7 linked regions of the Homo sapiens genome follow. The protein of the gene in region 7 purifies or fractionates together with the protein of the main gene of each other region. This does not show direct contact. Each region holds a gene or a part of one and is shown on either strand. Other genes may lie near its edges. The genes, in order: KCNG1, KCNT2, HERC3, ADCY3, ABCB9, SNX14 and DCST1.

Evidence for each region.
Region 1: the proteins of DCST1 (region 7) and KCNG1 purify together in Homo sapiens (affinity purification with mass spectrometry; one large-scale study listed by BioGRID and IntAct). This does not show direct contact.
Region 2: the proteins of DCST1 (region 7) and KCNT2 purify together in Homo sapiens (affinity purification with mass spectrometry; one large-scale study listed by BioGRID and IntAct). This does not show direct contact.
Region 3: the proteins of DCST1 (region 7) and HERC3 purify together in Homo sapiens (affinity purification with mass spectrometry; one large-scale study listed by BioGRID and IntAct). This does not show direct contact.
Region 4: the proteins of DCST1 (region 7) and ADCY3 purify together in Homo sapiens (affinity purification with mass spectrometry; one large-scale study listed by BioGRID and IntAct). This does not show direct contact.
Region 5: the proteins of DCST1 (region 7) and ABCB9 purify together in Homo sapiens (affinity purification with mass spectrometry; one large-scale study listed by BioGRID and IntAct). This does not show direct contact.
Region 6: the proteins of DCST1 (region 7) and SNX14 purify together in Homo sapiens (affinity purification with mass spectrometry; one large-scale study listed by BioGRID and IntAct). This does not show direct contact.

The regions. Positions count from the first base shown.
Region 1 is NC_000020.11:51,019,680-51,024,568, forward strand, and holds the start of KCNG1 (voltage-gated potassium channel regulatory subunit KCNG1), read right to left. Parts: upstream 3,429-4,889; 5' UTR 3,191-3,428; exon of another isoform or gene 2,975-3,190; intron 1-2,974. UniProt on the Homo sapiens protein: Regulatory alpha-subunit of the voltage-gated potassium (Kv) channel which, when coassembled with KCNB1 or KCNB2, can modulate their expression and their gating kinetics by acting on deactivation upon repolarization and inactivation during maintained depolarization.
Region 2 is NC_000001.11:196,422,933-196,427,266, forward strand, and holds part of KCNT2 (potassium channel subfamily T member 2), read right to left. Parts: intron 3,057-4,334; coding exon 2,920-3,056; intron 182-2,919; coding exon 118-181; intron 1-117. UniProt on the Homo sapiens protein: Sodium-activated and chloride-activated potassium channel. Produces rapidly activating outward rectifier K(+) currents. Contributes to regulate neuronal excitability.
Region 3 is NC_000004.12:88,703,385-88,707,718, reverse strand, and holds part of HERC3 (probable E3 ubiquitin-protein ligase HERC3), read right to left. Parts: intron 3,622-4,334; coding exon 3,438-3,621; intron 3,212-3,437; coding exon 3,109-3,211; intron 968-3,108; coding exon 759-967; 3' UTR 1-758. UniProt on the Homo sapiens protein: E3 ubiquitin-protein ligase which accepts ubiquitin from an E2 ubiquitin-conjugating enzyme in the form of a thioester and then directly transfers the ubiquitin to targeted substrates.
Region 4 is NC_000002.12:24,909,819-24,914,152, forward strand, and holds part of ADCY3 (adenylate cyclase type 3), read right to left. Parts: intron 1-4,334.
Region 5 is NC_000012.12:122,928,217-122,932,536, forward strand, and holds the end of ABCB9 (ABC-type oligopeptide transporter ABCB9), read right to left. Parts: intron 4,113-4,320; coding exon 3,976-4,112; intron 1,956-3,975; coding exon 1,695-1,955; 3' UTR 776-1,694; downstream 1-775. UniProt on the Homo sapiens protein: ATP-dependent low-affinity peptide transporter which translocates a broad spectrum of peptides from the cytosol to the lysosomal lumen for degradation.
Region 6 is NC_000006.12:85,516,909-85,521,242, reverse strand, and holds part of SNX14 (sorting nexin-14), read left to right. Parts: intron 1-3,194; coding exon 3,195-3,235; intron 3,236-3,367; coding exon 3,368-3,487; intron 3,488-4,334. UniProt on the Homo sapiens protein: Plays a role in maintaining normal neuronal excitability and synaptic transmission. May be involved in several stages of intracellular trafficking. Required for autophagosome clearance, possibly by mediating the fusion of lysosomes with autophagosomes.
Region 7 is NC_000001.11:155,046,769-155,051,102, reverse strand, and holds the end of DCST1 (E3 ubiquitin-protein ligase DCST1), read right to left. Parts: intron 3,908-4,334; coding exon 3,791-3,907; intron 3,317-3,790; coding exon 3,174-3,316; intron 3,047-3,173; coding exon 2,933-3,046; intron 1,835-2,932; exon of another isoform or gene 1,742-1,834; intron 497-1,741; exon of another isoform or gene 487-496; coding exon 235-486; 3' UTR 173-234; downstream 1-172.

The sequences.
Region 1 (4,889 bases), on a different chromosome or scaffold from region 7:
TCAACCTGTGCCATTCCCTCACTCCCAGTGGGTGTCTCGGGGACCCGTCCGTCTCTCTCCATGCCACTCTTTCCCAGGCCCTGCAGCGTTTCACTGCCAGTATAGCTTCATCTGTCAGGATTAGGGCTTCTGGCCGAGCCGACTCAGAGGCGGGTCAGGCTGCATTAATCCCCAATTAAAACGTTAATCAAAATGGATCCAACCATTAGCCTGGCCCGGGTCCTGGCATGTTAGATTTCCAAGAGCTGCTGTGCCCTGGTGGAGAATATATCTTTCTTAGCCACCTGCTGTCTGTTCTCGCCACAGTCCCACCACCCTGGGCCTTGGCCCAGCCTCCTGAAAGCTGGGGCCCAAGTTCCTGGGGAGATTGTGTGCTGGGAGCTAGGCTCTTCCCTCCATCCCTCCCTTGCCCCCAAATGAGAAAAAGTGCCAGTGTCCCTCCCCCCTATAAAAAAGACAGGCTGCCTCGGGAGCCTCCCTGCTGTGCTGCAGGCAAGCAAAATAACACCAAATGCACGTTTGCGTTTGCCTTCTTCTACGGGGAGGTGTTTGGGGACTGGAGCCAGAAGATCCTTTTCTCTTTGCCTCCTTGTAGCTCAAAATTAAGCAGAGAAGCAGGCTTGGGGGAGCAGTGGGGACCTCAGGACGGCAGGAAGGGAGACACCTGCTTACCAGAGTCCTCTGGAGGGAGAGCATGATCGGACCTGCCCGGGGAGGTGTGGGTATGAGAGTGAAGACTCACCTCAGGGCAACGGACAGTCTTAGGCACAATTCAGATCCTATTTGTAGCAAAGTCACTTCATTTCTGATTTCGTTAATCAAATACAGTCTGCTGGATGATAAAAATGGTCCACAGCAATGGAGTGCTTCAGCTAGGTTCTTCGCCTCTCCCTTTTTATTAATTCTATTTAGAGGGGCTTTACCAGCTGCCATTTTTCACCCACAGGCTCCATTTCTGGGCTTAATGCAACAACCAAGGGTAGATTCCTGTACCCCTAGACCTCTGGCAACAGGCAATGTTGACTCTTCATCAACATTGGAAAGCAGGGTGGAGAAAGGACAGCCGAGCCAAGGTACCTACTGCGGCTCCAGGAGGTGAGTTCCTCGGAGCTGGTTTGCGTCGCTTAGCCCTGCATCCAGCACACATCTCTTTGTTCTTCTGTTTCCTGAGGCACCTCCCTCACCTCTTGCCAGAGCCCAGCTGTGGGTCTGGTGCAGAGAATTCAAAGTGGTGCTCAGATCTGCCCCAATCAGGCTCCAGGACAAGCTTCGGGAAAGTCTTTGGGGATGGGGAGAAGCAAGTAACCTCTGCCTCCCATGTCACATCTCCCTCCCAGAGGCCAAAAAGGCAACCCAGAGTTTGGCAAAACTAGGGGTTTGGTTGATTTTTTTACTCCCAAGGTTTGACAACCCAGGCTGTAGGCTGCGGGCCTGGGCTCTCAAGTCTCAGGAGAAGAACCTAGGTTGCCTCGTTTCCAGTGTGCTTGCAGTTCCCTGCAGGTTAGGAGTGTGTCCCAGGACAGACATCTTTCCCGTGGAACGGGCTGGCTTCGAGAATGACTGAGGAGGGTGATCCCCAGGGGCCAGCGCTTGCCTGTTTTTCAAACACACCTTCCCTCCTTCCCCTCCTATCAGGCGACTCTGCAGGGCTCCAAAAGCCGGGGGAGGCACAAATAGAGCTCAGGTCTGGCAGAGCCTGAAAAATCCCCCAAAGAAGGACAGCATGCCCTAGCCACAGTGCCGACCGCAAGGCCCCAATCAGCAGTGCCAAACTTTTCTTGGAGATGTGCTGCCGGTGAGGCTCTTCATAGGGACTCTGCCATCATGGGTATGGGGGTATCAAACACACACTAATGAATAAACCTCTGCTCAGATTCATAGGGCAGGAACTTCCCCCACCCCACAATGAATCAGACCAGTTCCTGCTCCCTCCTCTTACTTCCCCCTGTACTTATCTCAGGGAGTCAGCAAAGGGGGTGGGGGCGTCTGTGTCTGTCTCCCTCTTCTATGTGTCTGTCATTTACCTGGGTAACTTTGGTGCCTGGCACCCTTTAAGTGCTTAATAACAGCGAGTGCTTAAGAAAATGCCTGCTGAATGGACAACCTAACTCATAAACCCCATTGGTGGGAACCTGCATTCCTCAGTAATGTCGGATCAGTGTTTCTCAACTCCTCCCCACCCTACCCCATCACCCGCCCCTAAGGAGCTTTGAAAAGATCTTTTCTTCCTATTCTAGAACCAATTCCAGCTTCCACACCTCCCACCTTGAGAAGGAATGCATTAGATGAACCAAGACTTCTGCCTATATACATGGGCTGCTACAGTTGGCCACCCCGGCAGTCTGCGGCCTCCCAAGCGGGGGCCTGGGTCTTAATCCTTACTTCTCTCTAAGCTGCATGAAGGGTGCCCCCATTCCATCCCTCTTCACTTCTCCCCAGCATAGCGCCTCCATAAATGTTTGTGAACTGGATGAATGACTGTTGAGCGCTTGGTATGATGAGCTGCTTACAATAGGTGCTCAACCAATCTTTGTCCAATCTATGAATGAATGAATGAACTTCACCCTTTTCCTTCCATACCTCCGGGCTGAGCCTCTCTCCCACATGGAAACCCTAAGGCTGAGACCACCACCTTCCTACCAGTTCCTGGGGGTGCCCAGTGAACTGTCTCAGTATCCCCAGTGCCTAGCACACAGTAGGCGCTCAATAAACGCTTGCTGTGTTCATAATGAATGACTCAATCAGGCCCACGGTGGGGGTGAAGGGGGGCTCCATACTGTGCCTAAGGATACAGTGAATGAGCAAGTGACACACACTCCCCCACCCCAATCCCTAACTCTCCTTCCTCCCAGGATCGGGGGAGAAACCTCGGCCCACAGCCGGGATGCGCCCCCGCCGGGGTCACCGCGGCGGCGAACGTCCCGGACTTCGCATCCCGGTGACCCCTTGGGATGAACCGAAGCCGGACCCGCACCTTGGCCGTAACAAGCGCGCTCCACGCCGCCACGCACCAGCGGTGACTCCCGAGTCCTCTGTCGCCCTGGCCTCCCCGCAGGCGGGTTTCGAGGCCCCCGCAGGGAGTTCAGGGCCACGGCCACGTGCAGCCGCCCCCGAGCCCGAGTTTGCAGGCTCGGGGTCCGGTTCGCGCTTCGGTGGCGCCCGGCGAGGCTGCAGCGCGCAAAGTTCCCACCTCAAGTTCCCGTCGCGGCGTCCCCGCCTCGGAGTTGGCCCGGCCGCGGCTTCCGTTCCCCCCGGCTGCCCACGGGTCCGGGGCGAGGACGCGAGAGGGGCCTGGAAGTCGCCCGGGGAGCCCGCTCTGCCTCCCGGAGCCGCCGCCAAACTTCGGTCCCGGGGCCCGGCTCAGCTCCCGCCCTCGGAGCCACGGCCGCCCCGTCTCTGCCTCCCGGTCCCCGCCGGGCTCCGAGTGCGCCGGGAGCGCGGCGCAGCAGCCGCCGAGGGAGGGAGCGAGGCAGGAGGCGGGACGGAGGGAGGGGACTGAGCGCGGGGCGGGGAGAAGGGGCGGGCAGCCGAAAGCGCAGCGCCTGGCCTCGCCTCGCTTCGGGACAGTGGCAGCGGCGCCACCGTCACGGGGCGTCCAGGCGCCCAATCGGGACCCCGCACCTTGGATCCGGGGGCCCTGGCGCGCCTGCTGGATTGCGCTCCTCGCGGCCAGTTCCTGAGCCCGCGTCCGGGACTGCTCGCGCTACGCCCTCCCTCCCGTTGCCTTCTTCCCCGTCTGCTCTCCCAGGAGCGACCACCCTGCGGCCCCTTCGCCTGCACGCGACAGCCTTCAAGGTCCCCGCGCTCCGCTGCCCTGGAGCTTCACGCACCAGGCGGCGCGGCAGCCTCCTAGGGTCGCGCGCCCTGTCAGCTTTCCCCGCGGTGCAAGTGCTCCGGTGGTCCCGGGTCCGCGCCCCTAGCAGCACCGCCCCAGGGTCTACATGTGCTAGATATTAAAACCCCACTCTCCGCTGCCCCGGGGCCGCGCTCCACGCGCTTACACATCCTGGGAACCACATGCGCCATGTCTCCTGCCTTTCCCTGGAAGTCCTGGAAGTCCAAGTGCACTGCTGCCTCTGGGTCCCTCGCCCCCCTACCCCGGGCAAATACTGCATCCTTGAGGCCCTCCACGCGCTGCTGCCCTGGAGCCGAACGCTCCAAGCAAGCTTCCACATCCTGGGGGCCATATATCGCGCGCCTTTTCTCGACCTCCTAGACCAATGTTGCCCTTGGGCCCTTCCTGCCACCGCCACCCAGGGACTGCCAGCATCTTGCTGTGCCAAATTCCTAGGGCCAGTACGTACCGTGCCAGGTGTTTTCCCTTCCAGTCCCGCGGGGCCGAGGCCCCAGAGCCCTCCCGGGCTAGCAGAGCCGCACTTCGTCGTCCACTCCCCTGGCCGGTGCAGGGCACTTGGACCAGGTCCTGGGGTCTTGCTCCCAGTGTGGCCGCCTAGCCTCGGAGTTGGTAGGATGCTGCACAGATGCTGGAGGTTGGGTTGGAGGGATCTATTGGGTTGGAGGAATCTACTGAGTTGGAGGGACCTATTGGTTTGGAGGGATCTGTGCTGCTGGCAGGGCTGGCCTCTTAGGGTGGCTTGCCTTGCACTCCGTTCCTCTTCTCCTTTCTGTCTCTTGCACTCCGTTCCTCTTCTCCTTTCTGTCTCTTGCACTCCGTTCCTCTTTTCCTTTCTGTCTCTACTGCCTTTGCCTATCATCAGAGAACCAAGAAAGGACATGAAGAAACCCTGCTGCCGACCAGCCTGAGGCCTTCTGCTTGAGTGGGGCTCGGGTTGGGGAGTCGTGGGTGCTCATTAAGTGGGTTAGGGTTAACCCTAAGAAATGAGCGCAGGGCACACTAGCCTGCGCGGCAGTCCCAGCCGGGTGGAGCA
Region 2 (4,334 bases), about 41 Mb from region 7:
TTAGTAAAACTTTAAGGTCACCAATACTTAATGCTGGCGAATTTTTAAAAACTCAAATTAAAAAAAATCTTCTAAAATGGAAAGCACAACTTACTAAAAAAGATTTTAGAAACTTACAGATGATGTCCTATCCACTTCACAACGGCTACTGAGAATAAAACAGGCCTCAGCGTCATCCATCCTAAATACAGATGGAAAAACAAAATAATCACACACTGAAATATCTACAGGTTTTCTGAAAAATAGAATTTCAGTCTTGAGTCCATATATTGCACAAAATGTACATGTAGACCATGTATATCCTTAAGCTTAAATGAAAGTTGAATTTCTAGCAGATCATGACTATATCTGATTTTGAACAAAAAAAAATTTGCTATTGGGTTGTCTATTATAACTTAATGTTTTATGACAAAAGTTAATAAAAGCCAAATGTTATTTCTTTGTATGATTAAATATATTTTATATGCATGCTTTGAGTAAATTAAGGGGCTATATTGGTCTTTATTTTATGATTAATAGTATTTTAACTGTAATGTCTGAATCAAACTAAGAGGGGTGGAATACAGCTCCTCTGTATTCATAAGTAAAACTCTAGTTTGTATTTATACTTCCTGGAGATCATTCATCATCTTTTTCCAAGCCCCTTCCCCTCATACTAGGGTTCAATATTTCTTAAGTTTAGTGATAAAGACACAGTATATTTTAGTGTTTGATACATGATGTTCTAAGAGCACAAGAATGTTTATTTTCAAAATGAGGAATCATTTATCTCTGTGGTTCTCTGTGATAAAGTAAATATTTTCCAAAAAAAAAAATGGTTTCTATGGGGAGGAAATATAAAAGTCCTTGAAATAAGACCAAACCAAACAGTTCTGGGAAAATGTTGCACCATGGTTATTAAGATAATATGAGTGTTGGATAACTTTCTTTAAACACCATTTTCAACTAAACAATTCAAAACTCATGTAACTAACCTATGAAACTTGTTTGGAGAATCCTACTCCATGCTCTATGCATGAGGAATTGCACTGAAAAATGTATTAGTTTATATTAAATCCCAAATATTTTATAGGAAGCTAAGATTGGAAATGAACATAAAAATGGATACTGCGTCACTCTAACTTGTTTTTTTAAATAGCTTTTAGAGTATGACCAGATAGCTACCTCTCTCTCTCCTTCATTCCCTTCCCTTTTCTTTTATCACATGGAGGAATTCTTCTTGTAAATATGGTCGCTTTTACCAAGACATCATTTTAAGACTATTGGTAATAAATTAGTTACATTAATCCTAAATAGTATATAGCTTAGATACTAATAGCTAATACCAATAACTCAGATAAATTTGTTAGATGGAAAGAAGCCTCCATGTATTACACAAATTCATATTGAACATAATATGAATGTTATTCATGTTTATTGTGTGAAGAACTTAACTATCATACAATAAATTAAGAATATTGATTATCTACACCAATGAATACAATGATCTAGATTACAGTAGTATCTAAGCATCTATTTCTCTAGCACACCCAAATAATGAGTATAGATAGCAAACAGTAAACACCTAAAGCCAGGGTTTACCTGAGGTGCTGGGAAAATCTGATGACTTAAAGAACTGTCACATGTACAATGACCACAAATATAAAGTATTTAATCCACCAAAAAGATGAAAATACTCACAAAGAAATGTAATTTTCCAATTAGATAACACTCATTATATCCTGCTAGTTTCTCGTGCTGTTTTTTTTTCAGAAGTTGAATCATTGAAAAAAAACTCCATTAAATCGACTTTATTATATATAAATCAAAGGTAACATCAGAGTTCCTGACTAGGTATCTAGTCATCATTTGAAGGATTATGCAGCACAAAGGAGTCCAGAAGTCTGTTCCACAAAACAGTTGACTTTTCTTCTGTTCTTTTCCAACACCCACTAGACAGACACACACACACACATACACACACACTTGCACACACAGTGAAGACAGGCACAAATACACACCCGCTCATGCACACTCAGGTTATCCAGGAAAGAAAAAAAAAAGTATAAAGCACTTATGCTATTCAATTCAGTGGGAGACTTTTAAATCTAGAAGAGTATGCAGGACAACTCAAGGGTAAACATGAAGATATGTTTAAAACTTTAAAAACAGCAGAAAATATTGAGCAAAACCACTTTTGTTGAAGATACCTTCTGGCATCTGAAACTAAGGAGACTGTTTTGCAGAAACTCTGTTTCTGTGGTGTCCACGCTATGCTCAATAATACTCTCACTCTACTCATATGATACAACTTGGTAACTTGTGACAAATGTTTAAGACTATGTCACCTTTAAGACAAATTGCCTGGTACATGCACAAAAAGAAGAGGGTAGCTGAGGGTAGCTAAGTAAGTCCTGTCACCTTTCTGATTCCTCTAGTCCATGGCAACCATTTTTTCTCTGACCCCAGGCAACACAAGTGCTATGTGTCCAATACATAGTGCAAGCTCTTTAAAATGTAAACCCTAACTCACACTGCACTGGTATGTCACACCATATTTAGCCCACAATTTTTATATGTGGGATAAAAACAGTATTCGGGGATTTGGAGACTACTCTAACAGTGAGTCTGGATACCTCAGTGAATCTCTGACAGCTTAAGATAATTATTCTGGGCCACTTTTTTCATTGTGCTGTGTGGTCACAGTCTTCTGAACAGTTTTGCCTTGAGATGAGGCTGAAAAAGAGGAGTAAACACACTGATTTTATGATATATTTTTGACCTTTTAGTTTGGCCAGCAGAGGGACTAAGGCAAGAGTCTATACTCAAACATACTTTAACACATCTTGCAACACTGAAAATTGCTAAAATTTGGAGGAAAGAGAAAATATTAAGTCACTCAAAACTGTAAGCTGCAAGATGAAAGGCAGGGATACCTACTTTGCTCTCAATAGGTCTTGATCTTTAAGGGCTGAACCTTGAAGGTAGATAACTCGTTGGGACCACATTGGAATCTGCAGTACCCTTCGAACCTGTACATCCATTTCAGTAGGACACAAAATCACCACATAATAATCCTATTCAAAACAAAATGGGCAATGGAATAGAAACAAAAATGTTTTATGTTACACTACATAGAAAAATAAAATATCTAAGAAAAATTTGAAATATGATAAAACTGAAATGAACTTTTGCTAATAAAATTTCACATTTAAAACCTGGACATATATTAAATAGCAATTACACTATAATAAATACAACTGGGACATACACAAATCTCATAAATCAATAAATTCATCTCAACTTATTTCAGTCTTACTAAGACCATAAGGGAAGGTAATCAGTGGTTATACCTGGCACACACTTTCAGCTTGTGAAGGTTTTAGTTTTATCTACAGACTGATCCTAAAATATACATTGAACACCAGGCAGAAGCATTTAAGTATCAATTCATACTTCATTACTTTTAGGATCAAAATTGTGATAGCGATTTATATCATTTAGCTATATAATTATGAAACAATAATTTTGAACAGTTTCTGATGAATATTTGAATGAATAAGGATCCATAAAAACACTGAAAATACTGACAAAGTAAATTAAATGAACATGATATCAAAATATTACAAAATATATGGTCCTTTGGAGAAAATTACATCTGAGTGGTGAAACAGTTTAAACCAATGATTTATAGAAATTAAAATTCTCTGGTAAACATTCACCATTTTACTGCTGTAAAATATATCTACTAGGAATTTCTGGAGTTTAAATAATTCTCTACATTGATACTAGATAAAGTTAATGACTGTATGATATGGTTTGGATTTGCGTCCCTGTCCAAACCTCATGTTAAATTATAATTCCAAATGTTAAGAGAGGGGCCTGATGGGAGATGACTGAATCACGGTGGCAGATTTCCCCCTTGCTGTTCTCCTGATAGTGAGTATGTATCACCACCCTCTTCCTCCTGCTCTGGCCATGTGAAGACACACCTGCTTCCCTTTCGCATTACACGTGACCATAAGTTTCCTTAGGCCTCCCCAGACATGTTTCCAGTATAGCCTGTGGAATCGTAAGCCAATTAAATCTCTTTTCTTTATACATTATCCTCTCTCAGGTAATTCTTTATAGCAGTGTGAGAGCAGGCTAATACACCATGGGATCAAAATTTTCCCACAAATGGATTTCCTTTATGAGTTATGATAAGTAAGCTTGAAATTAATTAAATATAAATAATTAAAAAAACAAGTATGGAGTTGCTATTAAAAATGCAAGTTAACATATGAAAACAAAAGAATAAGAACCAAATGATTCTGCCATTTAAGATAGAACAAAATGATTCTATCATTTAAGAA
Region 3 (4,334 bases), on a different chromosome or scaffold from region 7:
AAGGGACAAGGATGAGCAAGAAAAAATTAGGCTCAGCTGCAACGAATGCTAAGCTGCTCTGCACATCTTTTAAAAGGTCTAGGAAATAGGCACAGCCATGGGAAAGTTGCTATTCCCTCAAGAACTTTTTAAAAGCAAGATATGTTTATATAGGCTCCCATAAATTCTTAGGAGTTCTGCCAAAATAATGGACCCAGACTCAGCTTTTTGGAATTGGGAGTTTCTGAAGCAGTCCTTTCCTCCTTTGGGTTAAAGGAGGGCTGCAACAAGCCAGAGGCATTTCCAAGTGTACAGAGGAAGGTGATGTTCTCGCATGCGCAGATAAAAAAGGACAGGTCAGTCTAAATCATTCTTATAGAGGAATGAGAAGTTAAGAGAAGGACAAGGAAGCACTGTGAGAAAACATCAGGGCTGAGAGAGACATTTGGGAAATTAAAGTTTAAAAATCCACTGCCATTTCATCCAGCAGAGTGCAACACATTCACAAGTGCAAGGAATACTGGGTAGTTTGGTTTAAAACAAAAACAAAAACACCTCCCATACAAGGGCCAATTTTTCACCCCATCCCCAACCTCTAATTTTTCAAAAAGGTTGTTTACTGCTATACAATCCCAGAAACACATCAACCAGGCTCAGTATTTAAAAGTCCCAACCCACTTAGACAATAAAAAAATAGAAATCACTCCCCATGATTTTCTGTATAGGCCTCAATGTGGACACTGAGGAACGAAGGGAAATACTGGACAAGCTGAGAAGCCTCAGGCCAAACTAAACCCTTCATAGTTGTCAAGGGCCTGGGTCAGCCGGGCACTCAGAATCTCTTTGCTGCTGTACTTGGGGAGGTCAAGAAGGTTGTAGCAAGTGTGGGCCACCGGCAAGTACTCCTCCCCGCTGGCTGTGGACTGGATGACAATCTGCAGACTGGCCATGCCGTAGATGGGAATCCGATCGCTGCCTGTCAGGAACACTGGGGAGAACGAGAAATGGCATTAGCAGCTAAGCAAACGGAAAATGGATCTCAGAGATCCTTCTGGCAACAGGAGAGGAAGGCATGACACCCTGTGGCTTGCATGAGAAGTACAATTACATTTATGTGCCAATATGCATCCTGTGGAATGAAAATTAGATGCCGTTAAGAAAAAAAAAAGGCCTCAATCAAATGTACACCCTCACAAATGTTAGATTTCACAAAATCAAAGAGGGAAGGAATTGCTGTCATAGGAAAAGAGGAGCTGATCTTAAGGGGAAAACAGAAGAAGACTGAAGTCTCTGACCTCAGGGTCTCCTCTCACCTCAAGTGCCTGATGCCTGTACCACCTTGTCTACGGAATTCCATTTAGGATCTATTTGCTCTCCTTTCCACGTCTCCATTTTTCTTAAACCCGAAGAGCTGACCCAAACATTATGTTAGACATTGCACTCTTGTGACATGCACTGTGACTTGGCAAAAGAGAGAGAGGGAGACAGACAGAGAAAGACAGCTCCTTGTTTTCTAGTGCTGAACAACACTCTCATAGTTGAATTGCTGGAAATTACTATAAGAAAATCATTAGTTAAGAAGCACTTTCAAATAACCTGCCATTCCCTGAGGCTGTGATACATAAAGTTTCTTGCCAAAAATCTCCAGAGTTAACAAACATTTCTGTAAGTCTAATGAACAGAAAGTGCCATTTTCTAGGGAAATTCCAGGACCATGAGCAGGCATCTCTTGAATGTCACAGCCCTACAAGCTCACTTGGCAAACCTTAACCTGTCATTCAGCTCTTCCACTACTGCTTCTCAATAGCCAATGCAGCCAGGCAGAGGAGAAGTGGTCCCTCTTTTTAAGAATTCTTGTGTAAGATCTCCACTTCCTCTCATCCTTGCTCCCATGTGAGCAGCAGAACCTGTTAAGTCCTACATTAATACTAATATATGCTCCATCTTATAAAGCAAAATAGACTGCCTATCAAACCCTGTGCTTTGATTTTACATGACTAAAATTCCATACTATGCACTAGCTAATTTCTGACGCTGATTACACACAGACACAAACTGAGAAATATTTCAACCATTTTTAAAAGGCTGAATTTGTTCATGTAAATTAGAATTCATTCTCCTTTCCAAAGGTATTATTACCCTTCTCAAATGTCATTCAGCCAGCCACAAAGGTCTACATATTATATGATTCAATTTGCATGAAATATCCAGAATAGGCAAATCCATAGAGACAGAAAGACTGGTGGGGGAGCTGGGAAGAAATGGAGAATGACTGCTAATAGGTATGGGGTTTCTTTTTTGAGGTTATGAATGTATTCTACAATTGACTGTGTGTTAGTTTCACAACTGTGTGTATACTGAAATATACACTTTAAATGAGTATGGTATATAAATTATAGCCCAATAAAGCTGCTATAAATCACACCTTCCCAGTTCCATCTGGATACTTTGTAATATATTTTAAAGGCTAGAGAGATAAGAGAGGTTAATCCAAACAATTTGACTTCATAAATGGAATACTTGAATAACTTACATATAAAATAATTGGTATTTTTAGAATAATTTAAAAATCAGGCCAGGCGTGGTGGCTCACACCTGTAATCCCAGCATTTTGGGAGGCCAAAACAGGCGGATCACTTGAGGTCAGGAGTTCAAGACGAGGACCAGTCTGGGCAACATGGTGAAAGCCCATCTCTACTAAAAATATAAAAATCTGCCGGGCATGGTGGCAGGTGCCTGTAGTCCTAGCTACTTGGGAGGCTGAGGCATGAGAATCACTTGAATCCAGGAGGCGGAGGTTGCAGTGAGCTGAGATCACGCCACTGCACTCCAGCCTGGGCAGCAGAGTAAGACTCTGTCTCAAAAAAAAAAAAAAAGAAAGAAAGAAAAGAAAAATCAGTGAGATGCTTCTTTTCTTCCTTTCATGCAACCCCTCTTGTTAGGCAACAGATCTGGATTAACAACCTATATTGTGCCTGAGATAACATTAAGACAAAAAGCATACATATAGTGAATTACCTGGTCTTTACCATTTAAATGAGTTAAGCCTCAGCTGTGGAGCATGTCATCCTATACTGTATGTAAGACTAAAATGTAGACAAATACCATATTGAGATTACTGATACTTACAGAGAAACTTCTTCTTCTTTTCCAATGGAAACTCATGAAATGTTTCCCAAAATAGTTTTACAGTGGGATGTGTGGCCGAGTAATCTCCCTTGTAGATGGCAGTCTGTCCAAAAAAGAGAAAAAGAAAAAAATGTATCTTGGAAGAATATTATAGTGGACATTATATATCATTTGCATTTGAGGCTAAGAAATAAGTGCTGAGATACAGGACACCTCTAAATCTAACTCAACCACAGTATGCTTGGAACGAGACCAGGCTCTGGGAACACCTCCCCAGGCTGCTGCTGCTTCGCCGGAGTTAAAGGAGTTAAAGGATCTTTTGTGCTTACCTCTTCCAGTTCTTCCCAGTTGTAGTTGCTGTTCCCCACCATCATAGCCCTCAGTTCTGAAGGCTGGAAGAGCTCAAGTACTTTGCCACCACACACCTTTAGGAAGCCACTAGAGAAGGCTGTGTACCATTCATGAACTGAGATTTGGAAGACATAATTCACATAAGCATCCACAAATTCCTGCCTGCCAGAACACAAAAGAAAATACATTTAGCTCAAAGTCTTGTAAAGCTTATGAAGTTACCCTTCTACACTGAGATTGGGAGTGATAAAAAATAGAATTTCATCAAATTCTCAAATCAGGAGGCATCCTAAGGCATCATATAGGTTACCAGCTCTCCTCTCCTCCCTCTCCATCCCCAGCCCTAACATTCCACCAAGTGCCTCAGGTGATCCAAGGCAGGATAAGCCAGATAGGAAGGGCAGCAGGCCAGGTATATAGAACTAAACTACTGGCTTTACCTGAGGTATTCCAGTTTTCATGTTAAAAGCCCTGCTTAAAATTTAGTGTGGAAAAAATAATAAGACCTTTTCTGCTTAAAATAAAAAGTCTAGGATAACAGTTCTAGGCCATTTTCCTCAGAAACAAATAAAGCTAAACCACTTGATACTTGTATCCTCACCTGTTTTAAAAGGTTCATTTTATAACTCCTTGTTTATAAAACCTTTACCTCTGGGAAGAACCATCTCAAATAAAGGCTCCATCTCACTAATAATCAGGCAAATGCAAATGAAGACGAGTGAATTGTCATTTGCACTCATCAGACTGGCCTAAGTTTAAAAATGAGATTATATCAATATGGTGAAGGTGTGGGGAAAACAGAAACCTCATAGGCAGTTGGTAGGAAGATAAACTGAAATGATGGGAACCATATCGCAACCATGGAAATATATAAA
Region 4 (4,334 bases), on a different chromosome or scaffold from region 7:
TTCCCTCCCTTACACACGCTACTCAAACATCAAAAGATAGAATCAATTTCCTCTTGCATCTGAGTTAGCCTGGACTTCTTGTAGCCGATAGTGATGAGCCTAACCTTTAAAAACTGTGATAGCTTCCACCTTCTCTCTGAGACCACCATGCTGTGAGGAAGCCCAAGTTAGCCACATGGAGAGGTCAGGAGGAGGAGCTCTGAGGCTCCAGACATGAGTAAAGGCTTCTTAGAACTTGCCAGCATAGCTGGCAACTGAATGCTGCAGGTGAATGAAACAGCGCAGGTGGACAAATGAGTGACCCCAGCCCATGCCACGTGAAGCACAAAAACCACCCAGCTGAACAGTCAACCCACAGGATCATGAGAAACAATAAACTGTCATTCTTTTTTTATTCTTTTTTGAGACCGGTCTTGCTCTGTCACCCAGGCTGGAGTGCAGTGTCACGATCATGGCTCATTGCAGCATCCGGGGCTCATAATCCTCCCACCTCAGCCTTCTGAGTAGCTGGGACTACTGGCACATGCTACCATGCCTGGCTGATTTTTGTACCATTTGTAGAGACAAGAGTTTTGCCATGTTGCCCAGGTTTAAACTGTTACTCTTTTAAGCCTCCAAATTTTGGGGCTGTTTGTTACACAGCAGTGGATAACTAAAACACATGGTGAATAAATGGACATATACTCAGTAACACTGAGTAATGAGCCATCCCACATTACTGAATTTCCAAATATAATCCTTATTTGTTCAAACTTGTGTTATCCATTCCCGAGGAAAATGTTTTTAGATACTACACTACACTTTATGCTAAATGCAATTTAATATTTCCTTTCTTTTCTTTTCTTTTTTTTTTTTTTTTGTGAGACAGAGTCTCCCTCTGTCACCAGGCACAATCTCAGCTCACTGCACTCTCTGCCTCCCAAGTTCAAGCAATTCTCCTGCCTCAGCCTCCCCAGTAGCTGGGACTACAGGCGTGCATCACCACGCCCGGCTGATTTTTTGTATTTTAATAGAGATAGGGTTTCACCATGTTGGCCAGGATGGTCTCGATCTCCTGACCTCGTGATCCACCCACCTCGGCCTTCCAAAGTGCCGGGATTACAGGTGTGAGCCACCGCGCCTGGCCTTAATATTTTCTTGATGAGTTGGTCACCATTATGCACATCAGTTACTATGCTGTCCTATAATGTAACAACGCCTCCTACAGCCAGAGAAGGTGCATATGAGGGCTGTTGGTTGCAACACTCAACACCCCAGACATCTCTGTTCCTTGAAGATGCCCCCAAAAACACCTCCTCATCCCCCAAATTGCTCCTTCTAATGCTTGTGGGTTGAGAAACCAAAACCCTAACCCCGTTGGAACTATCTCAACAGGCTCCGAGGGAAGATATAAGGGTTCTTTTTTTTTTTTTTTTTTTTTTTGAGATGGGGTCTCACTGTTCCCCAGGCTGCAGTGGGGTGGTATGATCAGAGCTCACTGTAACTTCAAACTCCTGGGCTCAAGCCATCCCCCTCCCCAGCCTCCTGTACAAGACACACACCATCAGCCTGGGCGCTGTGGTTCATGCCTGTAATCCCAGCACTTTGGTAGGCCGAGGCAGGTGGATCACCTGAGGTCAGGAGTTCGAGACCAGCCTGGTTACTGTGGTGAAAACCTGTCTCTACTAAAAATACAAAAAAAATTAGCCAGGCATGGTGGTGGGTGCCTGAAATCCCAGCTACTTGGGAGGCTGAGGCAGGAGAATTGCTTGAACCTGGGAAGCGGAGGCTGCAGTGAGCCAAGATAGCATCATTGCACTCCAGCCTGGGAGACAGACTCAAAAAAAAAAAAAAAAAAAAACACACACACACACACCACCAAGCCCAGCTGAATTTTTTTTGGTGGTTGTGTACGTGTGTGTGTGTGTGTGTATGAAGATGGGGTCTCATTATGTTGCCCAGGCTGGTCTTGAACTCCTGGCCTCAAGTGATATTCCTGCCTCAGCCTCCCAAAGTGCTGGGATTCCAGGCATGAGCTACTGGTCACCGCCTAATGGGTTCTTTTATGACTCCAGTGAGAAGGAACTCCAAAATCCTACTGACCTGGGCTCCAATCCTGCTCTGCCTCTTACTAGGCATGTGGCCCTGGACAAGTCATTTCAGTTGTCACCCATTTCAGTTTCCTGATCTGTAAAATGGAAATAATATTTGCCTCTTGCCAGAAGGCACTAAACTGTAACAGAGCAAGAGCTCAGTAAACACAGCCACCTCCTCACTGTCCCTGCTCATGGGCCTCGACCTACGCACAATGTGTCTCTGAGTCTCCGTGTTGGTGATAGCACATACCCGTGGAATCTATTATCAAGAACGTGTAATTTGGTGATGGCTGGGCATGGTGGCTCACACCTGTAATCCAGCACTTTAGGAGGCCGAGGTGGGTGAACCGCCTGAGCTCAGGAGTTCAGGCCCAGCCTGGGCAACATGGTGAAACTCTGTCTCTATTTGAAAAAAAAAAAAAGGAAGAAGAAAAAGAAAAAAAGAAAAAACAAAAAGAATGTGTAATTTGGTGGGGGGGCAGCCAGGGGCAGAGGGTGGTGTTGGAATATTTACCCAGCATTAGACCACCCTCGTGGGATTTGCTGTTTGTTTATGAAGAAACTGCAGAATGCCAATAACCCTGGCATCCCAGCCATTCCATCTGACGGAGGGTTTACCCAGAAGGCTGGGCAGACCAAGCCCAGGAGTGAGCACGCATGTGTGTGTGTGTGTGCATGTGTGTGTGTGTGTGCATGTGTGTGTGTGTGTGCATGTGTGTGTGTGTGTGTGTGCCTGCATGTGCATATAAAACTACCCAGTTACCCACCCCTGGCCCAGCCCTGGGCTTCCGTTTCCTCTCTAGAAAAACTCGCTGACTATAAAGCGCTGATTTAAAATAATAAACACGAGGAGTCCAGTGTTCACAGCAAAATGTCAGGGAAATAATGTGGATGAAAGGTGGGGCCTAAATTGCATATGCATGATGATGACAAACTGGGAAAGCTCTGTTTATACACAGATCGGGGTCAGAAAAGGCCACAGAAAGCTGCGACAGGGAAAGGATGGAGGGGTTGATTTTCTGCAAAGTTGTTTACATGTTCAATGACTGATTATTCCTCCTCACATGCAGCTGAATCTGATGGCCCTGCAGTCCCCTTCTACGCACGTCATCATTGTTCTGGTCCCTGGACCCTCCACTGATGCCCATCTGCATACTCTCCACGGAGGGATGACGGCTTCTTTCCCGTCCCGGGTCAGTGGAGGAGCCCAGGGCCAAAGAGCCAGGACTGGCTTGAGTTTGCCTCCTCTTGCTCTGTGTCCTGCACACCTCTCCCTGCAGCCTGCTTCCTGAAGGCTGAAAGCCCCCAGGCCTGCTGCTTCCTGCCCACCGCACCTCACACCAGCTCCTGTCCCGATTCAGCCCCCTGCCTTTCTCAAGTACTCCTGGCCACGTGCCCACAGGGAACATCGTCATGGGCTTCTCCCTTCTTTGCATCCAATTCCCATGGGGAGAAGGGGGTGCCTCCTGTTATACCTTAGGGACTGCCATCTCTTGGCACTGTTCAGCTACGTTGCTTAGCAAAGACATTTGGGGGCAGCCAGAAAAGTAGGAGGCCCAGATGCCTGGGTTCCAGAGAAAGAGAGGCTTTCAGGGAAGTCCCCCAACCCACCTTTCTCACTCATCAGTGACCCCTCCCCTGTAATCCAGCCCCACTACCTCCTCTCAACCTCACTGAGCCTCAGTCCCCTTATCTGTGAAATGGAGCCAGTAACATCCAGGATTAAATGGGATGAGGTGCATGCAACAGCTACCTGCCGTCTGCAGACAGGGTGTCTCTGGAAGCCTCAGTTTCCTCTCACCCTCCCTACGGCAGCTCCCTCCAGCCCCTAGGAGCAAATGTTCCTTTGCTGGGTGAATGATTGCTGTGTAATTTGCAGGTGTGAAAGAAACTGCACATCCACAGCTTCCTCATGTTTTACTTGGTGAAAAAAGGTCTTAACAGGCTCTTCATTCCATGAGAGAATTTTGCTCCCAAATAGCCTTTCTGCTCTGAAGTAAGGGTACAAAATATTTGTCAGCAGTTCCTAGTCCCTACTTTGCCAAATGCTAAAGGCACGCCCCGCCCACCACCACCCCCAACCATCCTGGCTGCCTTCCCCATTGTCCGCACTCATTGGCCGCTGGTCCTGCAGGTCCTGGTCCTGAGCCCAGTCCCCTCCTTCCTCCTCACCCAGCCCAGGGGCAGTTTAGGGCAGTAAAGGGCAAGTAATTCCGTAACAGGTCCTGGGGCAGGACCCAGGCCAGGGGAGCGAAATGG
Region 5 (4,320 bases), on a different chromosome or scaffold from region 7:
CCCAGCACTTAGGGAGGCCAAGGTGGGCAGGCCATCTGAGGTTAGGAGTTTGAGACCAGCCTGGCCAACACAGTGAAACCCATCTTTACTAAAAATACAAAAATGAGCCGGGTGTGGTGGTGGGTGCCTGTAGTCCCAGTTACTCAGGAGGCTGAGGCAGGAGAATCGCTTGAACTCGGGAGGTGGAGGTTGTAGTAAGCCAAGATTGTGCCACTGCACTCCAATCTGGGTGACAGAGCAAGGCTCTGTCTCAAAAAAAAAAAAAAAAATTGAAATACTACTCTACCAGTTGGCACAGAGCCCTCCTCCTGGGACCCCAGAGTTCTTCACAATTCAGCAAGTAAGAATAACCACCGCAGGGGTCTTCCTGTGTCCGGGCCCAAACCTCCCTGCTGATTGAGCTGTCCTCCTGGGTAATATTTCTTTACTGCATGGATTGGGGTGGGTGTCGGGTGCCTGGGCCCCGATGGAAAAGAACAGGTGGCATTTGTTGGGCCTCAGTTCAGCTGTCCCGGGAAGCACAGAGGCCCCTGGGATTTCAAGGCAACGTCTCTATCCCCCTGCGCAATCCCCGTGGAGACAGGCAGACAGGAATGTCTACACCAGAGACCCTGGGATGGGAGGAGTGCAGATGGGGCTCCCAGACACAGGGGGAGGCCCTGGACCACCCAAAGTCTCTCTGCAACTCCACCAGAGAGGGCTGAGAGGAGAGCCGTGGTCTGGTGGAAAAACCTAACTGGGCGATGAGGCAGTTGGCCCAAGTAGAAGTCAGAGGTTAGGGGTAAGAGGTAGTACACTTTATTGACCGGGTTCTCTCAACATGTTGCAACCTCTGGCAAAGCCAGATCCTGGGCTTTGCCACCATCCCATCCACCAAAGACAGAAGAGAATGCATCTCATGAACATCCACGTGGCCTCCAGACAGCAGAGCACAGGGGCGGGTGTGGGGAGGGAGGCTGCCAGCCAGGGGTGGGTGGACGAGGGGCGAAAGCGCTGGGTGCCGGGCTGGGGGCACCCCTGAGGCCCCTCCAGACCTGGCCAGCCCCTCACTCCCCCAGTTGAGGTTTCGTGTGGTTCACAGTGAGACTGGCTTAGATTGGCAGCGGGCGATGGCAGACAGATGCCCTCCACGCTCCCTACCCGCCCTGGCCAGACTCACAGAGCTGGCAAGAGGGAGAGACGGAAAATCCCGTTCCCCGTGTCTCCCTCCGGGACAGGGAAGCCCCTTCTCTGGAGGGGTAAAGGGGAGAGGCCTAGTCTCTGGACATCCCCCAGGCTACTAAGGAAGGGCCATTCACTCCTGGCTCAGAAGTTTCTAGAACATCTTGGTGAAAGTGCCCGCCATTACTCCCAATTAGAAAAAGGTTTTTGAAATCTAGGAGTTGACTGGGGTGCCTCAAACCAAACAGTAAAAACCCTGGTAAGACCTAGGTTTAAAAAGGCAGCTCTACCTTTGCTTAGGAGGCTAGGGAGGTCCGTGAAGGCGTTGGCTCAGGGCAGCAGGGGTAAGGAGTGCCCTGGGAATGGGGCAGGGACCAGGGGCAAGATGCAGGAAGCGGTGATCCATGGGACATGGCAGGTCGTCTTTCAGTGCTGCAGGCCTGGGCTCGGAGGGCAGCTGGGGGCCTCCGTGGGCACATCTGCCAGGCAGGCACCGGGTCCTCTGCCCCACCGGGAGAAGCAGGGGCCCCCCATCAGGCCTTGTGACTGCCGTTGGCTACAGGCTCGTTGTGGCCAGCTGTGAAGTCTGCGGCGGGCTGAAGCCCCAGCATCTGCCGCTGCACCAGCTTGGCGTAGAGGCCGCCCTGGGCCAGCAGCTGCTGGTGGGTGCCCTGCTGCACTACGCGGCCCTTGTCCAGCACCACAATGAGGTGCGCGTGCTCCACGGTGCTCAGCCGGTGCGCGATGATGAGTACCGTGTGCTTCTGCAGGTTGCCATGGATGGCCTGCTGGATCTGCGGGGACAGTGGGGGCCTGGCTTGCATGGCACGGACGCCCCACCCGCAACCGTGCTTCATGCCACGGCCTATGGGCTGATGCTTAACCTCTCTGAGGCTCAGTTCACAAACGATGGCCAGCTTCCTGGGTTTTTCTTAAAGGGAGACAGCTCAGGGCCAGACACAATGAGGCACCTGGTGAATGGGGGATCAGCTCTACCCTGGCCCTCCAGTCTTCTGGTCCTTCCCTTCCCCCTCCTTTTTTTTTTTTTTTTTTTTTAAGTCTTGCTGTCACCCAGGCTGGAGTGCGGTGGTGCGATCTCAGCTCACTGCAACCTCTGCCTCGTGGGTTCAATCGAGTCTCACGCCTCAGCTTCCCAAGTAGCTAGGGGATTACAGGTGCCCGCCACCATACCCAGCTAATTTTTGTATTTTTAGTAGAGACAGGGTTTCACCATGTTGGCCAGACTGGTCTCGAACACCTGACTTTGTGATCCGCCTGGCCTCGGCCTCCCAAAGTGCTGGGATTACAGGTGTGAGCCACCGCGCCTGGCCTTCCTTGTTTCTTATCTGCCTTCCCCACTGGAATGGAAACACCATGGGGACAAGGGTCTTTGTCTAGTTAGCCCACGATAACCCCAGAATGGTGCCTGGTGCCTGGTGCCTGAGAAGAGCTCAGTAACTCTCTGTGTAACAAATGAATCAATCCGCGCATAGACTGAGGTTGCTAGCCATCTGCAAATACATGACTGGGCCCACCTGACCAGTGAGAATGCGACTCAGAGGGGAAGCACTAGCTTGAGGTCACACAGTTATAAACTGTAGGACGGAGCTGCTAATCCAGGTATCCCCATTCTGTTTTTTGTTTTTGTTTGTTTGTTTGTTTTTTCAGATGGAGTCTCACTCTGTTGCCAAGGCTGGAGTGCAGTGGTGCAATCTCGGCTCATTGCAACCTCTGCTTCCCAGGTTCATGCTATTCTCCTGCCTCAGCCTCCCAAGTAGCTAGGATTACAGGCACCTGCCACCATACCTGGCGGACTTTTGTATTTTTAGTAGAGATGGAATTTCACCATGTTGGCCCGGCTGGTCTTGAACTCCTGACCTCAGGTGATCCACCCGCCTCGGCCTCCCAAAGTGCTGGGATTATAGGCATAAACCACTGCGCCCAGCCTTTTTTTTTTTTTTTTTGTAGATGGAGTCTCACTCTGTCGCCCAGGCTAGAGTGCAGTGGCACAATCTCAGCTCACTGCAACCTCCATCTCCCGGGTTCAAGTGAGTCTCCTGCCTCAGCCTCCCGAGTAGCTGGGGTTACAGGCATGCACCACCATGCCCAGCTAATTTTTGTATTTTTAGTAGAGACAGGGTTTCACTGTATTGACCAGGCTTGTCTCGAACTCCGGACCTCAAGTGATCCACCTGCCTTGGCCTCCCAAAGTGCTGGGATTATAGGCATGAGCCATCATACTGGGCCTATTTTATTTTGTTTTGTTTTGTCTGTTTGTTTGAGCCAGATGGAGTCTGGCTCTGTCGCCCAGGCTGGAGTGCAGTGGCACAATCTCGGCTGACTGCAACCTCCACTTCCCAGGTTCAAGCAATTCTCCTGCCTCAGCCTCCCAAGTAGCTGGGATTATAGGCATGTGCTACCACACCTGGCTAGTTTTTGTATTTCTAGTAGAGATGGGGTTTCACCATGTTGGCCAGGCTGGTCTGCAACTCCTGACCTCAGGTGATCCACCTGCTTCGGCCTCCCAAAGTGCTGGGATTACAGGTGTAAGCCACCACTCATGACCCAGGTCTCCCCATTCTGATGCCTTCTCTTGCCCCACACCATACAGCTCTGCCTGGAGCCTGGAGGCTGGGTCCAGAGTGGCTCCTGGCTCCCCACTCTCAACACCAGGAATTCACCAGCCCAGGAGGCTGATAGTCTGGGAGAGCTCCTGGGGCCCGTCTCTTCTCAGCATCCATCTGCTGGGCGATGGGGGCTCTGGCCACCTGGAGCCGCTCCTGCCCCCGCATTGCCCACCACCCTGTGACTCACCAGATACTCGCTCTCGGCATCCAAAGCGCTGGTGGCTTCATCCAGGATGAGGACTGGGGGGTTCCGCACCAGAGCCCGGGCCATGGCCACCCGCTGCTTCTGGCCACCTGACAGCTGGGCGCCCTTCTCCCCTGTCTCTGTATGGTGGAGGCACAGAGACAATTTAGCAATGGGTGAGGCCGGGCAGCACCGGGGAAGAGTGAGAGGCCCTGCCCTGCAGCTGTGGAAAGGGCGGGCTGGAACCCACAACTTGAAAGCTCATGAAATGATGTTCCCCCCACCCAACTCATAAGGGGCATGCAGATTAAGCCTACATGCAAATTGATAGCAAGTTACCAATTTTCA
Region 6 (4,334 bases), on a different chromosome or scaffold from region 7:
AAGAAAAAACACTTCACAAAAGAGGAAATCAATATATGGTCAATAAATACATGGAAAGGTGCCTAATTTTATTAATAGGGAAACTCAAATTAGAATCATGTTTGGGAAACACCGCATTCACCAAAGTTTTTAAAAGTCTGATTATACTAAGTGCTAAATATTGGTGCAGATGTAAAGGAACAGGAACTCTTACACACTGTTAGTAGGACTATAAATTGAAAAACTACTTGGAAAAATTGTTTGGTATAAAAACTGAAGGACCCAGCAGTTCCTCTCTCAGATATATACTTTGGAGAATCTATCCATGTTTAAGAACGTTCATAGTAGAGTTCTTTGTATAGCCCAAACTAGAAACAGCACAAATGTTCATCAGCAATTGAATGGACAGATAAACTGTGGTAAAGTCATAACGTTGAATACCCATATCATGAGGCTACTAGCAACAATGTGGATGAACTTTTAAAAATGTTGAATGAAAGAAACAAAACATGAAAGAATATATACAGTCTGATTCTTTTTACATAAACATCAAAACAGACCAAACTAGTGTAAGCTGGAAAAGTTTGAATAAAATTGTTAAAAAATCGTTGGGCGTGGTGGCTCACACCTGTAGTCCCAGCAATTTGGGAGGCTGAGGCAGATGGATCACTTGAACTTAGAAGTTCAAGACCAGTGTGAGCAACATGGTGAAACCCTGTCTCTACTAAAAACACAAAAATTAGCTGGGCATGGTGGTGGGCGCCTGTAGTCCCAGCTACTCAAGAGGCTGAGGCAGGAGAATTGCTTGAACCTGGGAAGTGGAGGTTACAGTGAGCCGAGATTGCACCACTGCACTCCAGCCTGGGCAACAGAGCAAAACTCCATCTAAAAAAAAAAAAAGGTAAAAAATAATATAGCATTGACTAGTTGCAGTGGCTCACACCTGTAATCCCAGCATTTTAGGAGGCCGAGGTGGGTGGATCACTTGAGGTCAGGAGTTCAAGACCAGCCTGGCCAACATGGTGAATCCTTGTCTCTACTAAAAATACAAAAATTAGCTGGGCGTGGTGGCGTGCACCTATAATCCCAGCTACTTGGGTGGCCTAGGCAGGAGAATTGCTTGAAACTGGCAAGTGGAGGGAGCCGAGATCATGCCACTGCACTCCAGCCTGGGCGACAGAGTGAGACTACATCTCTACTACTATTACTACTACTACTACTGCTACTACTACTACTACTACTACTACTGTATAAAAGCAATATTTCTAAATATATTTTATTTTTTATTCATTTGTATTCATTATGGTTTTTAGAGACAGAGTCTCACACTATTGCCTAGGCTGGAGTGCAGTGGCACAATCATAGTTTTTTTTTGTTTTGTTTTGTTTTGTTTTTTGAGACGGAGTCTCACTCTGTCACCCAGCTGGAGTTCAGTGGCACGATCTCAGTTCACTGCAACCTCCATCTCCCGGGTTCAAGCGATTCTCCTGCCTTGGTCTCCTTAGTAGCTGGGATAACAGGCGTGTGCCACCACGTCCGGCTAATTTTTGTATTTTTAGAAGAGACGGGGTTTCACCATGTTGGTCAGGCTGGTCTCGAACTCCTGACCTCGGGATCCGCCCGCCTCGGCCTCCCAAAGTGCTGGGATTACAGGCGTGAGCCACCACGCCCAGCCAACACAATCATAGTTCACTGCAGCCTCAAATCCTGGGCTCAAGTGATCCTTCCTGCCTCAGCCTCCCAAAGTAGCTAAGACTACAGGTACACACCAGCACACCTGGCTAATTTTTAAATATCTGTAGAGATGGGATCTCGCTTTGTTGCCCAAGCTGGTCTTGAACTCCTCAATTGATCTTTCCACCTTAGGTTCCCAAATTGTTGGACTTACAGGCGTGGAGCCACCCTGACTAGCCTCTAAATATATTTTATATGATGTAATCTGAAGTAATGTATATGGAACTAAATCAGTGAGTTAAATAATGCAAGTAGACATTTGGCTTCTGTCTATACCCACACCCCCACCCAAATCAATACATTTATTTGAGTCAAAATATTTAGTGTTTGTGTATCTTTTTATTGGGGGAAAAAAGTGAGGACAAAATATTTGGTTATATATGGCATTTAGGAGATTGGGTATTCCTGGTTACTGACTAGGTTTGATTGAAGAAGAAATGATCAGGGATGATCCAAGTTTCTATTTAAATAACTGGATGAATGCTGTTACTTGTTGGAATAGGGGATACATTAAGAGCAGTTTTGAACTTACTGAGTTTATAGAATCCAGTTGAAGTTTTATAAAGCAGGAGAGTCCAGGAGACAGGCAGAGATTAGAGATTTGAATTTTATTTGAAATCAGATTGAGCAAATAATTTGGCTCAGTAAGAACACATAGAAGACAGAAAAGCATAGGATGAAACCATATAATTTAAAGAACTTGGGAACATTCTAAGGAGGGGGTGTTATGAGAACCAGAAATACCAGAAATAGCCAAATGGGAAGGTTGGGTGGTTTGCCTGTCACAAAACAGTATTTTTATTCTTTATTATTAATGTCCCCTTCTATTGCCATAAATCTACTTTTTTCTGATTTGTTCAGAAAGCAGTTTAAGTTGTATTTATCAATTTTGATTGATTTTTAAGTCATTTCTAAATGCTGGAGAAAATCTCAAGATGTTTGATGTTTCAAATTAAGGGAAGCTGGAGATCAAGAAGTAATTTTGGCAAACATAGGATTTAGAATAGAAATTCTTAATCTAAAATTCAGAATATAAACTACTGAAATAGTTTTAAATATTGAGGCAGTTCTTAAAACTTTTTTTTGACTGACCTTTGCATATCTTTAGATACCATTATATATTCACTGTTACTGAAAACCCTTTGAAAATATTTCTTATAGAAATTTTCACAAAAGTAGACAAAATTATGTAATAAACTTCTTACTCAACGTTGTTATCAACCCTTGGCTTGTTCCATCCCTTCTCCCACCACTTACCTCACTGGATTTTTTTAAAGTAAATCCCAAATATTCTATCTATAAATATTTCAGAATACCATATTTATTGAAAATTTCCATGGAGTGTGAAATGGTCAATCATAAATACTTTTACAGTTTTAACTTGGCTATTTCGTATTTAAAATTACCTGGTTAAGTATTCATGTGAGCAATTATGAAGAGTTTTATGCCTTCCTAAAATAATGTTTTACTTTTAATTGCAGGGAAAATTATAAAATCTGTTCCTGGAAAACTAATGAAAGAGGTGAGTAACTGATTTATGTGTGTTCTATAACATGATAATCATAAACATATTTAAATATTGATAAATTTTGCTGGATTATGTACTAAAAATTACCTTTATTTTTTATTTTCTTACAATAATCTATCACCACAGAAAGGTCAGCATTTGGAACCTTTTATCATGAATTTCATTAATTCTTGTGAGTCTCCAAAGCCTAAACCAAGTAGACCAGAACTGACCATTCTCAGCCCTACTTCAGAAAACAACAAGAAGGTACTGCACATTGCATTAAAGAACTATTAAGTTTTAAGTTGCCCTACTTGAGATTACTTTTTCATTGTCGAGAGAATGAATACTTTGTTAATGAAATGGATTGAGCTATACATTTCCTTTATGTGGAAATCAGTTGAACGGTATACAGAGGGTATTGTGTGTAATTACTTGGTTCTTTGCTTTAATGTGGTAAATGTTTCTCTGGATACTATATTTGCAAACTGATGCCACTTCTGTATTTGGGGATTTTTAAAAGTGGTTTTCTTAGGTTATATGTCACCAACTTTCAATAATAAGAAATTAATTGCTATACTGTGTTTATGTTTATTGGATGGCATTACCTAACTTTCATGGCTTATAAAGTATTTTATCCATTCATTAAACAAACATTTTATTACATGCCTACGATTGAGTGCTAGGCACTGGGAATATAAGGATACATTCCTTGTCCTCAAGAAGGTGTTTAGTGCCAAGGTGTAGTGCCCAGCATGGGGAGCTATGGAAGCTCAGAGGACCTCTATCTTTTATTTTTGTTAATACTCTGAATGGTATCTTTAATATTATTAATGTTTTCATTTTATAACTTGTATATATAGATAGAAAATTTTTATTTAGTCGTCTTGCTAGACTTAACATTAGTTTTAGTAATATCTGGTAATTCTTTTATATTGACACAATTGTTGCAGATGATTGCAGTTTTGTTTTATTCCTGACTAGGACTGCTATATAGAAAGGAAATTGTTTAATTATTTCACCATCGAATAGTGTGGTGTAGCTCTTTTTGTATTAATAGATAACCTTTATAAGATTAAGGAAGTTGCCAGGTGCAGTGGCTCACATCTGTAAT
Region 7 (4,334 bases):
CGACCGGCTTGGGCGGCGCGCCTTCACCCGGCGCCAGGTCCGGACCCCTCCCTAGTAGCTTCGCGGCCTCCCTGCCTCCTGTGCGCGGCCTGGCTCGGAGAGGTCGGGCGGGCAGGCTTTCCCGACTGCAGGCGAGGCAGTGCGCGGCTCACCCCAGTCCCCGACCCACGTGAAGCGTACAGGGCATTTTATTAACCGGGAAGGACGGTGCGGAAGAGCGAGCAGGACGCCTCTTCACCCCGCGTAGGCAGTGTCGTCGTTGCTGTCACTAAAGGCGGAGGAAGAGAGCTCTTCGCGGGGCGTGCAGACCGGGCACCGCTGCCGCATGTCGTCCCAGCACGACCAGCAGTACACGGCCTCGCAGTCCAGCGTCCGGCACACGTAGGACTCGGGCGTCTCGGGTGCCTGGCACACCACGCAGCGCCGGCACAGCCAGCGGCGCAGGAGCGGGCAGCCGCGGTGCAGGATATCCGCCAGCGGGTGGCGCTGTTGGGAGGTGGGCGTTAGCGCCAGCCCGGGAGCGAGGCGGGAAAGAAGGGGAACTGGACAGCGTTTCCTGTCTGAAGTCGCCAGGCCTGACAATTCCCGCGTGTTGGAGGAGGCTGGGTTGGACAAAGGAAACCCCTGGAGGGCGAGGGTGCCTCCCTCCCCAACTCTGTGATGGAGAATGGGAGGATGCACCCTCCAGGCTCTCTCCAAGCGGATATCAGCCACAACTCTCATTTGCACTTTCCTGTAAATCATCTTATTTGGTTCTCACAGTGAGGCTGAGAAGTGAGCAGGCCAGATCGACTATCACTGTTGCTATCCCCACTTTACAGTTGAGAAAGGTGAAGTGACTCTCAAAGTCACACAGATAGTAAACAATCCAACTTGGCTGGACCCCAGGGGCCCTGATTCCAAACCACAAACCTAGTTCACTATGCTCCCTGCCATCCCTCACGACATGTCTCTACACAGTTGTCAGGGATTTTCCACAGGCCACCTTACCCAGGAAGCAGCCACTCTTTGCCCAAGAAACTCCAGAGGCCCTGCTGCCTGCCAGACAGGCAGAACTCTTGGGCTTGGCCTTCAGAGCCTTCCCTCACCTGGTCCCTTTCTAGCCTCTTTCCTACTTTAGCCCTCCCTGAGAGCTGTCTCTTCTGAGCCAGTTTCTCCTGAGACTAGCCCTGGCACTTCGCATTCCCTGTGGACTGAGTCTTTGCACATTCTGCTTGGAATGACTGTCTGGCACATTTCCATCTGTGCATTCACATTCAGTTTGCTTCACGACCCTGTCAAGGAATCCCAGCATGTTCTTTTTTGTTTTTTGTTTTTCATTTTTTCACAACACATTCATTTGGCCCCTATTGTGTGTCATGGGGGCTGGGGGTATCCAGGCCCTAGGGAAAAAGCTAAGCAAACACAGTCTCACTTTTATGAACTTTGTTAGGACTGATTAAATAAGAATGGCTGCCACTCATTGTTTATAATGTCAGGTCCTGTACTAAGATACTGTACATAAATTATTTCAATTCTAAATTAGCCGGGCGTGGTAGTGTGTGCCTGTAATCCCAGCTACTCGGGAAGCTGAGGCACGAGAATCGCTTGAACTGGGGAGGTGGAGGTTGCAGTGAGCCAAGATCACGCCACTGCACTCCAGCCTGGGCGACAGAGTGAGACTTAGTCTCAAAAAAAAAAAAAAATTCAATTCAATTGTCATGTAAGGCAGATAGTGTTATTATCATCTCCTTTTTTTCAGGTGAGAAAACTGATGCTTGGAGATGTGATCACTGCCCAGGGTCACCCAATGATAACATGCATGCATATGGAACTTGCTGCATGCCAGCACCATGTAAGTACAACTCATTTAATCCTTAAAACAACCAGATGGAGTAGTTAACCCCATTTTATGGAAGGCAAAAGCCCAGGCACAGCAGTTAAGTCATGTGCTCAAGGTCACACCGTTGTCATAGTAATGAGGGAAGGAGCCGGGATACACACTTAGGCCCTCTGGCACCGGAGTCCCACACCTGACCACCACTCTAGGCTGATCTCCAGTGAGCAGGCCTTACAGATCTCTCCAGTCTTGCCATTCTTCAGAGGGAGAAACTGAGGCTCAGTGAAGACCTTGGCCAAGGTGACACAACTTAATGAGGGAGTATGGACTGGAGTCTGCTTCCTCAGATTCCATGTGCCTTACCATGTGCCCCTGCATGAGGCCTTCCTGACTCCCAGCCCACCTGCCTCCTCCTGTCCCTTGAACTGCACTGAGCTTCTGGTCTGCAGCCCTCTGGTAGAAACTTTGGTTTTGCCTTGGGCCTCCTGTTTCTGTGCGGCCCTCTTGCTTTTCTATGAGCAGACTGTATTAAATCTCATTCTCCTTTTCTGCCTGCTTCCTAATGGTCCACTGAGTGTCTTAGGCTGGGCTGAATCCTGGGATTCAGAAACGGGCACAGCCCTGACCTTAGGAGCTGGATGGCTGGGGCCCTCAGCATGTGTTGCATCAGATTACACCGGGCTTGGCTGGGCTTGGTGGCTCACGCCTGTAATCCTAGGACTTTGGAAGGCTGAGGTGGGCAGATCACCTGAGGTCAGGAGTTTGAGACCAGCCTGGCCAACATGGTGAAACCCTGTCTCTACTAAAAATACAAAAAAATAGCTGGGCGTGATGGCGTGTGCCTGTAATCCTGGCTACTTGTGGAGTGGGGGGCTGAGATAGGATAATCGCTTGAACCTGGGAGGCAGAGGTTGCAGTGAGCCGAGATCGTGCCACTGCACTCCAGCCTGGGCGACACAGTGAGATTCCATCTCAAAAAATAAAAAGAACTTACCAGGCTCGAGTAGGCCTGCGACCATTGGTGGGTGCTGGGTGGACTGAAGGGAGCTGCCCCTTGCCTGCTGTACTTAGACCCAGCCAGGAGCTGGCAGCAGCACTTACGCCTGGACTTACCGGAGCCTTCTGCTGTCGCTCCCGCCTCAGGATAGCGGCCCTCCTGAGTTTGGTGAAGGCTGCTCTTTTCTTCAATAGGTCATTGTAGAGGAACAGGATCCGCTTCTTCTCTCGCTGGGGGCAGGAAGGGGGTCAATGATAGAGAAAGGCATCCCCCAAATATGGAGTTGGTAGGGAGCTGGGTGGTGTGTGTGTGTGTGTGCAGGTGTGTAGGGGTGGAGAGGTCTGGGGAGGGGCAAACCTTGGGGAAGTAGAAGGCTGCGATGACCCTCCGGAGTCGGTAGCCAAAAGCCTGTAACAGGCAGAGACACACTAACAGGCCAATCGGTACTGCAGCTCTCCAGTAGGCCCTGGCATCCAGGCCCACAGGCTGGGGCAGGCAGGCTAGGGGAGGGGCAGGCCAGGGGTCTGGTCAGGACCAGCCAAGGGGCAGGGCAGCCCTGGGTTGGACTTCCCATCCCAGTGGGAGGTGCAGTCCTCTGATTCCCCTGCTCTCCTCCTGCCTGCCCCTCACTGCAGAACTGCCCTGTCAGTACTGTAGCCGCTGGGCCCAATGTGGCACAGATCTTGCAGATTTCTATCTTGACTGAATGTCCTGTTGGACAGTGCTGCTCTGGAGGGCTGGGGCCCCCTAGCCACAAGACCCTGGCCTCCAGACTCCTCTGACTGAAGCTGGTCATGCTCCCCTTTTTCAAGCCTGCCCAGATGTGTTCCCTGCTCCGATTTCCCCAGCTCAAGCGCTCCAACCCCCATCTCTCCACACCCAAGGCCCAGGCCCCTAACTCTTTACCTTGGAGTCTTTTGACCCTTGCCCCACCGCCCTCGATTCCTCTGATCCAAACTTTCAGCATCACTCACGCATGTTGTTTGATTCCATCACTGTCTCTGAGGAGGTGTTCAGGGCCCCAATGGTTTTTCGAAGAAGCCGGGCTAGCATGGAGTCTCCCCCGACCTTCACCTCCAGTTTATGACTGCCTGCGGCCAGGAGGACAGGTAGGGAAGTCAGGGCAGGTGGAGAAATCAGGAATGTGTTAAGGGGGTGGATGTCAGGGAGGGGTCAAGACACAGAAATGCTTCTCAGCTGCCTGAGTCTTTCTGTCCCTTCCTGAATCCTAACCCCTCCCTGCTCCCAGTTGTAAGTGTAAAGGGGTACAGAGCCCCCCTCCCCTGCTGTGAGAGCTGTCAGGTTGCAGGGCTGTCATTTGACCTTGAGGAGGACAGGGAGGGGCTGAATCACAGAAAGGGGAAAAGAACAGGCAGAAGGATGGCTGGCACAGTGGCACACACCTGTAATCCCAGCACTTTGGGTGGCCGAGGCAGGTGGATCACTTGAGGTCAGGAGTTCGAGACCAGCCTGACCAACATGGTGAAACTCTGTCTCTACTAAAAATAGAAAAATTAG